2 separate regions of the Homo sapiens genome follow, and region 2 is reported to be linked to region 1. Evidence: microRNA targets listed by miRTarBase, many of them from high-throughput screens and not tested one by one. Region 1 holds a microRNA gene; the other region holds the end of a gene's coding sequence.

Region 1 (5,172 bases):
ACTCTAGACAACACAACAGCACATCTAGAAAGGAGGTTCTTCAGCAGCACTCACTCTAGAGCACCTGGTGCTGGGGTTATGAGGCTGAAGGAAATGGCCCAGCCCTCAGGCAGCCCAGAGTCCAGGAAGGGAGTCTGGCAGTTATGTAAGCAGGTGCGACGTGGTGGGAGCCATGCCACAGAGATGGGGGCAGGGGCTCTGGGGAAATGGCAGGTGGATGCTGGACTCCATCCTGTGCATCTGAGAGGGATCAGGGGAGGTATCCTGAGCCAGAAAAAGGACAGGCAGAGAAGGGCTGAGTGAGATTTTAGGCAGAGGGAACCGCCTGCTGGTGAGAAAGCAAGGAGAGATGGAAGATCAGAACAGATCAGGGGAGGGACTGACAGGGCCACAGGATGGCAGGGGGAGCCCAGGACAGAGGCTGGGCAAGGGTGCTGAGAACATCACAAAGCCTCCTGCCTGCTAAGGAGTCCGAACAGGGACAGAAGGGGCCGGAGATGGGGGTCTGGGCCTCTGTGGGTTGAGAACATGCTGGGGACACAGCTGGTAGGATCTTTATGCCCCTCTTCTTCTGGGGTGCAGAAGTGGAGGGCAGGTAGGCAATGGGCTTGAGGCCAACCTCCCTTTGTCACCCTCTTTCCTTCTTGCCTCCAGGTAGGGAGGGGAGGCCAGCCCTGATTTTTGTCTAAGAAAGTCTCTAGGAAGCCCGCTTATCTATGTACAGGCTCAAGACTCCCATAGGAGGGCTGGAGGTCCTCAGGCTAGAGGTGGGCTTTCCCTCCCATTTGGGGGCCTTCAGCTGGATGCACAATATCTCCTAGGTGAATCTGGAAGTAGGAGGATGTTTTTGGTGGTCACTATGCCTGCCCCTCTCCAGTGACGGCCATTCAGTGGCAGAGGCCAGGAGTCCTAAATATCCCACATTGCATTGGACACGTCCATACTATTAAGAGTTGTCCCCACCACATATGCTAATAGCTAGGCCAGCTGACCCTCAGGACCCAAGGCCAGACGAGTGAACCAGCCAGCCCTATTTATGAGGGGCTTTGAAGAACACTAGGAAAACTCAGATAAGTCATCCCATTGTGCTCTCACAGGACCGCAAATTCCTCAAACACCAAAAGTCTGTGTTTGGGGATCAAGAAGCCTGTCTACCTTGTCCTAAGGGTACCCATGTGAATTGTAGATACTCCAAGGAGCAGTCAAGCCAGGAGCATTATCAGCCAGGACTTTAAGTTTTCAACTCTTGCTGATAATCAGAATTTCCTACAATGCTTTAAAAATGCAGATTCTAGCTGGACACAGTGGCTTATTAAAAAAGCCCACAATGACCTTCGAGAGATAAAAACTACAATGTCTGAAATGAAAAATATACTGAATGGGATTAACAGTAGATTTGACACTGGAATAAAATATTAGTGAACTTGAAGAAATAGCAATAAAAGCTATCCAAAATGAAACACAGAGAGTAAAGAAAGACTTTAAAAAATCAGGCAGAGCTTTGGTGAGCCATGGGAAAAGATGAAGAAGCATAGAATACATACAATTGGAACCCCAGGGTTGAGGGAAAGTAGGAGGAATCGTGGCTGAAAATTTTCCAAATTTGATGAAACTATAAACCTACAGATCCAAGAAACTCAATAAATCCCAAGTGGGAGAAACATGAAGAAAACCACCACACCAAGGCACATCATAATCAAATAGATGAGGTCTTAACTGTATGCTCTATTGTCTCTCATTGATAGGCCCAAGGCATGAACAGAGAAGAAACAAAATGGCAAAGGCACCAGGAAGAGATGAATGGATATAGATAAAATAGCAGGAGAAGAATCAGGAGAGAAGGGAAGGGTGGCACAGTGGAGTGTGGTGGTAGGTCATGGTCACTGGCAGCGGCAGACTCAGTCACTGTGGAAGGTCCACTGCTTTTACACCCCTGCAGCAGGCCCAGTCACACTCCTGAGAGCAGCTAGACTCCTGCTGTTTCCACCAAAAGTCCAGCACTATAAGTATCTAGAGACCTGGATTCACTGAGTGAATCCTCTTTGTCCTGGAACCTGGCCTGATTCCAGGAAAGAGGCCCAATCAATAAAAAAAAGAGCAAGCATAGCAGACACCTGGAGGCCAGCAGGGCAAGTCCACTGTTCAAAAGCCTAAAGACAGCCCCAGCCACATTAGAATCTCTTCCAGGCCTGCCAGTCCCACCTGAACACACCACAGGACACTTCACCTGCAGAGAGGTTTCAGGCCAAGGGACAAAAACTTCCAAGTTCACTGAGTTGCCAGGGCATGGTCTATTTCATCTCTAGGGCACATCAGGCCTGCCAGCAGGGCCTGCAGCATCACCGAGTAGGCTGTCACACACACGATCACAATGGGACACCCTGGAGAATGGCAGGTAGCCAGCCCTGCCTATTACTACCATACAGGCGGTTACACTCCTTGCTGGAACAAGCAGCCAGAAGGAGTGCTTTGGTTAGGTCCTGTCCAGGAAGAGGATCAGGACTCCAGGGGTGGGGGTGGGCTGTTAGAGAGCCTGCCCCTGCACCTACCTGCCAGGCTGGAAGGACCTTCTCGATGTCATTCAGGTTGATGCCATCCCCATCTTCCAGCTTCCCTTTGCCACACCTGGACCAGAAAAGACAGAAAGGCATTGGAAAGATGGCTCATTCATGCCTCCTGTCCCATCCGGCCAGCAGGAGAGGAGGGACAGTCAGCAGATACCTGGTGCTGCCCACCCTCAAGCCCTGCAGGGGCTGTCCCACCTAGAGGAAACAGCCCTAGAGAAGCTGTGTGTGTGTGGGGGGGGGGTCCTCCCGTAATGCAACAGCCAACCTGGAGGGAGGTGGGAGAGGAACCAGAGTTCCCCTTGCTCCTTCCAGGCAGAGAAGCTAAGCTCCTTACTCATCACAACTCCTGTCAAAGCCCATCCACCTTGCCCCATTACACTGAACAGAAGATCAGTGGACAGAGACACCAAGCAACTTTCTCAAGGTCACATAGGCTGGCAGGGGCTAGCAGAAAACCCAATAGGGCTTCCTTCCTTTTTGGCTTGACTCTGGGTCAGTCCAGCAAGCCCACTCAGATAGTCTATGCTTTGTCTTCATGTCCTCTGTGAGTGGGCGTGCCCTCGGGCCAGAGAGGCTGGCCCCAACTCCCTGGCCAGAGGTCTGAATCTTTGGCATATTTAAGGGTGCAGATTCCGAAACCAGACTCCCAGGGTTTGAATCCCCGCTGCATCCCTTACCAACTGGGGACCCTGTACAAGTTGTTTAACCTCTCTGTACTCATTTCATCAAATGAGTTTCCTCATTTGTTAAATGAGGATAATAGTGTCTAACATCTTAAGGTGGCTGGAGGATTAAATTAATGAATGTATCTGGAGTGCTTAGATGCTTAGAACTGTGACAGCCCACAGTAAACGGTACATATATACACACATATATAGTCTAGCTTATATATATATATATATATATATATATATATATATATATATATATATAAATGTTTAGCTTGTTTGTTTATAAATGTGTGTGTGTATATTTCTTGTGTATGTATTATTATCTGTATTTACCATTAAATATATCTTAAACATACACACATATGTTTAATGGTAAATACTGGTAATAATAACAAAATTAAAATAAATAATGAAGTAAATATATTGCTACTACTATGACTACTTTCATTACCACTAATATTGTTGCTGTTGTTTAGGCAAAGAGGCAGGAGGGTGATTAATTAAGGACACAGATTCTGGAGCCAACCCAGCCTCATGCAAATTACTCAATTTCTGGGTCTCCTAGTTGCTTCATCTATTGAAGAGAAGATGGTAACAGTTCCTCCCTCTCTGGGTGGTGGCGAGTTTTAAATAAATGAGGCAAACACTTAGAACAGAGGCTGGAGCATGGCCGGTGCATAGTAAGTATTGTCAGTTACTATTATTACTGGTATTGACTGAGGAATGGTGAGAGATGTCCCATGAGTTGGGTCATTTTCCAGCTGCAGAGTTCATACGAATCTCACCTTTCAGAGTAACTAGTTCATTGTTTAAACATTTACCAAGCATCTCTTCTGTTTTGGGCCTTGTGAACCAAAAAAAAAATCAGTTTTGGTTCCTGCCCTCAGACAGTGGATGGCCCTTAGAACAAATCCTAAACTCCTCTAACAGGGCTGGGTGCCGGAGCACCACTGGGGGCAGCACGAGATCGGTGTCATAAAAGTCCTATGGCCAGAGGCGCCCTGGAACCCAGAGGAGGAGAAACTAGCTGCAAACACCAGCAAAGGCCTGGGTGGAAGAGAACAGGGGGCTAACCCAAGCCCCATTTGATGGCTCATTTCTCCATTCACCAAACACTTCTGTGCCCGGCTCTGGACAGGGTCTGGGACCCAGGTGTAAACAGTGCACACAACTGCCCCTCTCGGTGTCTGGCGGGATAATCACCCCCCACAGTAGAGCAGCAAGTGCCCCGCTGGGGACAAGGGATCGTTGCAGGAACCCCAAGGAGCAGCGTCTAGAACTGTCTTGGGCGAGGGGCAGGAGGAAGGTGAGAGGTGAGCTGGCCAAGCACAGGGAATTTGGGAGGATGTCCCAGGCTGACACGGCGCAGGCAAAGGCCTAGAGTTAGGAGCATGTGTGGTGCCAGTTTGCTGTGGCTAGAGCATGTTAGGGGTCAGGGTGCAAGGGGTAGGCAAGGGGCATGGTGGAGCTGGGGTGGGGAATGGTGTGCAAGGTATAACAGGCATGAAGGAAAAGAAAAAGTTTCCCCCGGCCCCCGGCTGTCCCCACAACTGTGATGTGCTGGGGCTACAGGTGAGCAGGTGGAGAAAGGCCCGGAACATCCAAACATCTCTTAACTCATCAATCTGCCTGGTGCAGACAGGCTGGCCTGTGAAAGCACCAACTGCGTGTAGTCTTCTGTGTTCTGCACCCGCCTGGGCCATAGGGGAGGAGGGCACTGGGGACTTGGCTTGACTAGAATGGCTGATACCACCTCCCCAGTGTCTCCTGTGGGTAAAACACACCTCAGGACTCTCTCGCATGCACTGAGCTCCAAGCACACGCTGGGCACCAGCCTAGCACACTCCAAACACAGCTTTCTGTTCTCGCCTCAGCGCCCCTGGGGGTGGGCAGGTGGAGGCCTGCAGGGAGGGCTGCTGTCCCACGAGGCCTGC
Region 2 (5,000 bases), not on the chromosome of region 1:
GACCCTTGACCTCTGACCCTGACCCACACTCAAGCCGAGCTGTACAGGAGGGCAGTCTCAGATTCCAGGCCTAGGGACCCTGTGGCCTCTGCCTGATAGGGGAGAGGGATGCCCCATCTCCCAGTGTCCCTGCTCTGCCTCCTGGGGCATGGGTGGGGCTGCCTCATGCCCTCCCCACAGCCCTACCCTGAGCCCCCTCCCCACAGAAATGCTGATGGCTACATCGACCTGGATGAGCTGAAGATAATGCTGCAGGCTACAGGCGAGACCATCACGGAGGACGACATCGAGGAGCTCATGAAGGACGGAGACAAGAACAACGACGGCCGCATCGACTATGATGGTAAGCGGGTGGGTGGGCTGATCTCCTGCCTCCATGCCCTGCCCAGCCCCTACCCTCAACCCACACCTGCCCCTCTTTCCACAGAGTTCCTGGAGTTCATGAAGGGTGTGGAGTAGATGCTGACCTTCACCCAGAGCTGCCTATGCCCAGCCTCCAACTCCAGCTGAGTCCTGGGGTTGGGGAGGGGGTCGGGGTCCCAGGACCTGAGCCTGGCCATGTCCTCAACCCCAAATCCCCCGACTCCCTCCCCAGATCTGTCCTGGGGGATGCAAATAAAGCCTGCTCTCCCAAGGTCTGCTATCTGGCTCTGGTGTCCCTGGGCCGTGGACTCATCCCCAGGACCCACTCTTACCCAATGGCCGCTTCCTTCCCTGTCCTAGGCAGGCTGGCTGCAGAGCCTGGCGCCTGACCACCGCTCCACACTGCCTTCTGCAGGGGGGTGAGATGAGATCGGAGACTGCCGTGTGGCCTGCCCTGCTTGCTGCCCTCTATCACTCCTCAGGCCCAGGCACCATCTCTAGGGATTCAGCATCTGGAGTCTGTGGGGGCCTAGAACCCCCACAAGTTCCTGGGGGCCATCACTTTGGTCAACCACTGTGGCAGCCTAGGGGTCCTCTACTTGGAGAGAGTGGTTCACTGTGGTACACAGCCAGGCCCTTGGATGCTCCCTGGCACAGCAACCCCTGTTACCTCTCAGCCGTGGCTGGAATGGAGCTGAGCCTGTGGGGTCCCTGCAGGCTCACAGTGCTAGTCCACCCGCCCACTTGCTTGTATTTCCTGCCAGCAACATTGACTCCCAGGGACAGAGGGGCATGGAGTCGGCTCTATCTCCCCTCACCTGTTTGGCCCAGAGAGGTGCAGGGACCTGTCAAGGTCATCCAGTGAGTGTGGGGGAGAGCAGAGCCAACTGGCTTCCAGCCAAGGGCCCTGTCGGATGGGCCACATCCAAATGGACATGATTTCCAGTTCCCGTGAACCTCAGAGGCTCATCTCTTGTGGCCCAGTCTCTCTCCCTGGCAGGGATGGAGGCCCAAGGCCTGGCAGCTCTCAGCTTAGTGGGAGCACCCAGTCCAGAGCTGCCGCCAGACAGTGATGCTGTCTTGGAGGCGTGGGCGTTGGGGGCTGCAAGGAAGTGGAAGTGTCAGCAGAGGTGTTCGCAGGAGGGACAGCTGCCAGCAGCACCCAGGCTGTAGCCAGAATGCCGTCAGCTGACCTTGCCCCGCCCAGCCACTCCACTCTCTCTGCACCTGTGCCCCAGCCTTGGCATTCCCCAGACAGGCCTGGCATTCCAGAGATGGTCTTGGAATTCTAAAAATGCCTCTGATGGAGGCCAGCGCTAGCAAGAGCTTTCTGGTCCCTGGAGAGACCTGAGGGGAGCAGAGAGGAGTCCCTTCAGGCCTGCCCTTGTGAGCTGGAGAATTGGGGACCTCTACAGACACCCAGAGTGACCCAGGAAGGGTGACATCCGAGGATAAAAGGAAGCGCCACATCGGGCAGCACCAGCAGCCGGTGCACCACCCAGTGGTTCACTCACACACCCACCACGCGCACAGCACAGGGCTGGATCCTGGGGCATGTCACAGTGAGGCCCAGTCCCTAATCTGGTGGATTTTTTTTTTCTTTTTTTTTGAGACGGAGTCTCACTCTGTCACCCAGGCTGGAGTGCAGTGGTGCGATCTCAGCTCACTGCAAGCTCTGCCTCCCAGATTCACGCCATTCTCCTGCCTCAGCCTCCTGAGTAGCTGGGACTACAGGCGCCCGCCACCACACCCAGCTAATTTTTTGTATTTTTACTAGAGATGGGGTTTCACCGTGTTAGCCAGGATGGTCTCAATCTCCTGACCTCGTGATCCACCTGCCTCGGCCTTCCAAAGTGCTAGGATTACAGGCGTGAGCCACCGCGCCCGGCCTTTTTCTTTTTTTGAGACAGAGTCTCGCTGTGTCACCAGACTGGAGCGCAGTGGCACAATCTCGGCTCACTGTAACCCCTGCCTCCCAGGTTCAAGCGATCCTCGTGCCTCAGCCACCCAAGTAGCTGGGATTACAGGCACCTGCCACCACACCCGGCTAATATTTGTATTTTTAGTAGAGACAAGGTTTCACCATGTTTCCCAGGCTAGACTTGACCTCCTGAGCTCAAGTGATTCGCCCACCTTGGCCTCCCGAAGTGCTGGGATTACAGGTGTGAGCCACCGTGCCCGGCCTAATCTGGTGGAATTTTAAGGAGATGAGTACAGTGGGAAAGCCAGCGTGGGCTGGAGTGGGGACTGGAGGCATGGTGGGCCCATGAGTTACAGTGGTCTGGGAAAGCTCCCTAGAGGAGCTGACTCTGCATGAGATCTGGGGGAACCACAGGGAACCAGCCATGGGAGGCCATGGAGAAAGACTGGGAAGGTCTCAGGAGCAGAAAGGCAGTGTTGGGCTGGAAACCAAGCCCCAGCAGTCTTGGGAGACATGGGCAGTGCCAGGCCCCATGAGGACCCAGTCAATGTAAGGGGTGATGGCTGCAGAGGGCAAAAGGGGTGGGAGAGACGGAGCTAGGAGCTGGCCTGAAGTGGCGGCAGGCTTTGGGCAAGAAAGCCCGGTGGCTTCCAGTACAGTGGGGTGCTGGGGAGAGTGGGCAGGGGTACATGGATTCAAGGCACATTTTGGAACTAGAATGGACAGAGTTTGCTGAAGGCTTGAATGTGAAGGGTGAGAAATAAGAAAATCCAAAATGACCCTTAGCTTTTTGGCCAAACTGCCATTTCCTGAGATATGGAAGCTGGGAGGAGACACAGGTTCAGCCGTGGGGTATTGGGAAGTGGAGCTTACTTCCCAACACTAGGTTTTAGTGGGGTTTTTTGCTTTTTTTCTTTTCATTTTGAAATTCCAGGCTTGCAAAAATAGTACAAAGAACTCCCATTTACAGGTACCCTAGCTTCCCTAAATGTTAACATTTTAACCACAGAAGGATCAAACACAGGAAATGAATATTGACATAAACACTGCTAATTAATCTGCACAGCTTATTGAAGTTCTGTCAGTTGTCCTAAAGTCCTTGTCCTGGAGCAGGAACCAATCCAAGATGGCACTAACGTGACCTCGTCCTCCTGTCTCCTTACTCCCCACCAGCCTGTGACGGTCCTCAGTGTTTCCTCATCACCTCTGAAGAGCTGAGGCCAGTTATTCTGTAGAATCTCACTCACTTTGGGTTTGTCTGGTGGCCCCAGGGTTTGGGAACTTGCAGGCCCCCAGGCCTCAGCCGCCTGAGCAGGAGGGTTTCCGTGGAGCAGAGGGGTGGGAGCCTGACAGGAGTGAGCTGAAGTACAGGGGAGATGGTGGGTGTGGGCAACACCCAGGGAACAGAGAAAGGGACCCAAGCTGAGAAGCGATATGGGGTCCAGGGAAGCTCAGACAAGGGCCACGTGTGCTCGGGTTGAAGGGAGTGAGGATTGTCAGGAAGGGGCAGTGGGGGAAGGAGGGCTCTGCCACGTCCTGGCTCTCTTTTCATCAGCTGTGGTGGGGAGGGGGACAGGTCCTGGGACAGGAGGAGGAGATGAATGGCCCTGCTTGCAGATGGAAGCCCCAGAAGATACTGTAGGAGGGTTGGGGTGGGGCGGGAGGAGCTGTGAGGGATGGCTGATGGGAAGTGGGGGGGCTCACCCTCTGCAAGCAGCTGGAGGTCCGTGGGGGTGGAGGGGGCATGGCATTGTCCTAATATCCCTGTTCCATCCATGAAATTGGTGGGGAGGGGACTGGGGGCATCCATTCCTTCCAGGCATGCCCACCCCAGAATTCTGGCTGGGAGAGGCTGGGCTGTGACCCTCCACATATCCACCTGGTGGCACCTGCTGCATGAACACGCACTTCACATAGGTATCAGCCCAGCTCACCATCTCCCACCAGTACATGGCATTTTGTATCCTTCATGCATCACCTAGTTTTGCCTGTTTTGCTGCATCCTTTCCATTTCTGGGCTTTTGCTTGGATAGTGCTTCCTCCATGAAGCCTCCCTTGATTTCCTCCATCAAGAGCAATCACTGGAGCATCTTCCACTGCTCCTGCTTCTTTATATTGTGTTTGCCTGGTTACTGCTAGCGTCCTCAAGAGGCTGCTGTTTCTGCTGGGTGGCCCTGCTACCCCAACACAGGGCCTGACACAGCGAGTTTGGGGGCCTCCTGCAGTTCCTTCTTTGTCCACTAGATGACACACGATGCCCGTGTCTGGGCCCATTGATCCTCGAATTCGGAGCACCCTTGTGGTCTTTCCCACCTGCAGCTGGCAAGCAGGGGGGCCTTTAGAGACGATCCCTACCCTCTGCCCCCAGGCCTGGAAAACTGAAGCCCAGAGAAGGAGAGGACCTGACTGAGGCCACACACATTAACAGTAGAGTTCGGACTCCCAGCCTGCCACAGGCTCTTTCCGCAGTGTGGAGTAGGCTGCCCCCACACCCTTCCCCAGTCGACCCAGGCTTCCCTGCAGCCCCTGCTGGGTGTCTGGCTGAGCTGAGACCCCAGGATGGGCTGGCAGGCTGAGGAGTGTTGGGCCTCCTGCCCGCCGCTGGTGGTCACATGCTGGCTGAAGGGCTGCCTAGCTCAGTCTCCAGTTAGAAGTTGGCCCCAGCTTGGGCAGTGTGCTGGCCACACCTCCCCAGGGAAACAGAGACAGAAGCAGT

What was found. Region 1 holds the annotated microRNA hsa-miR-4743-3p (UUUCUGUCUUUUCUGGUCCAG, at 2,626-2,646, opposite strand). A microRNA usually pairs through its seed, bases 2 to 8, with sites in the 3' UTR of a target mRNA and lowers its output. Matches are read on the target gene's strand: a 7mer-m8 pairs with bases 2 to 8, a 7mer-A1 pairs with bases 2 to 7 and ends in A, and an 8mer does both.
Region 2: the mRNA of TNNC1 is a reported target of hsa-miR-4743-3p. The part of its 3' UTR that is shown has no 7-base or 8-base seed match.

The regions. Positions count from the first base shown.
Region 1 is chr18:48,668,122-48,673,293 of GRCh38, reverse strand. It overlaps MIR4743 (microRNA 4743), which reads right to left and starts at 2,694; the gene lies at 2,626-2,694. It overlaps CTIF (cap binding complex dependent translation initiation factor), which reads right to left. Exons shown (of 12, transcript NM_014772.3): 6 at 2,550-2,625.
Region 2 is chr3:52,446,734-52,451,733 of GRCh38, reverse strand. TNNC1 (troponin C1, slow skeletal and cardiac type) reads left to right here. Exons shown (of 6, transcript NM_003280.3): 5 at 207-343; 6 at 428-634. The coding sequence ends at 459. Among named protein-coding and RNA genes, the nearest start is that of SEMA3G, 4.1 kb to the right of the region's middle. RefSeq lists a silencer at 1,427-1,721.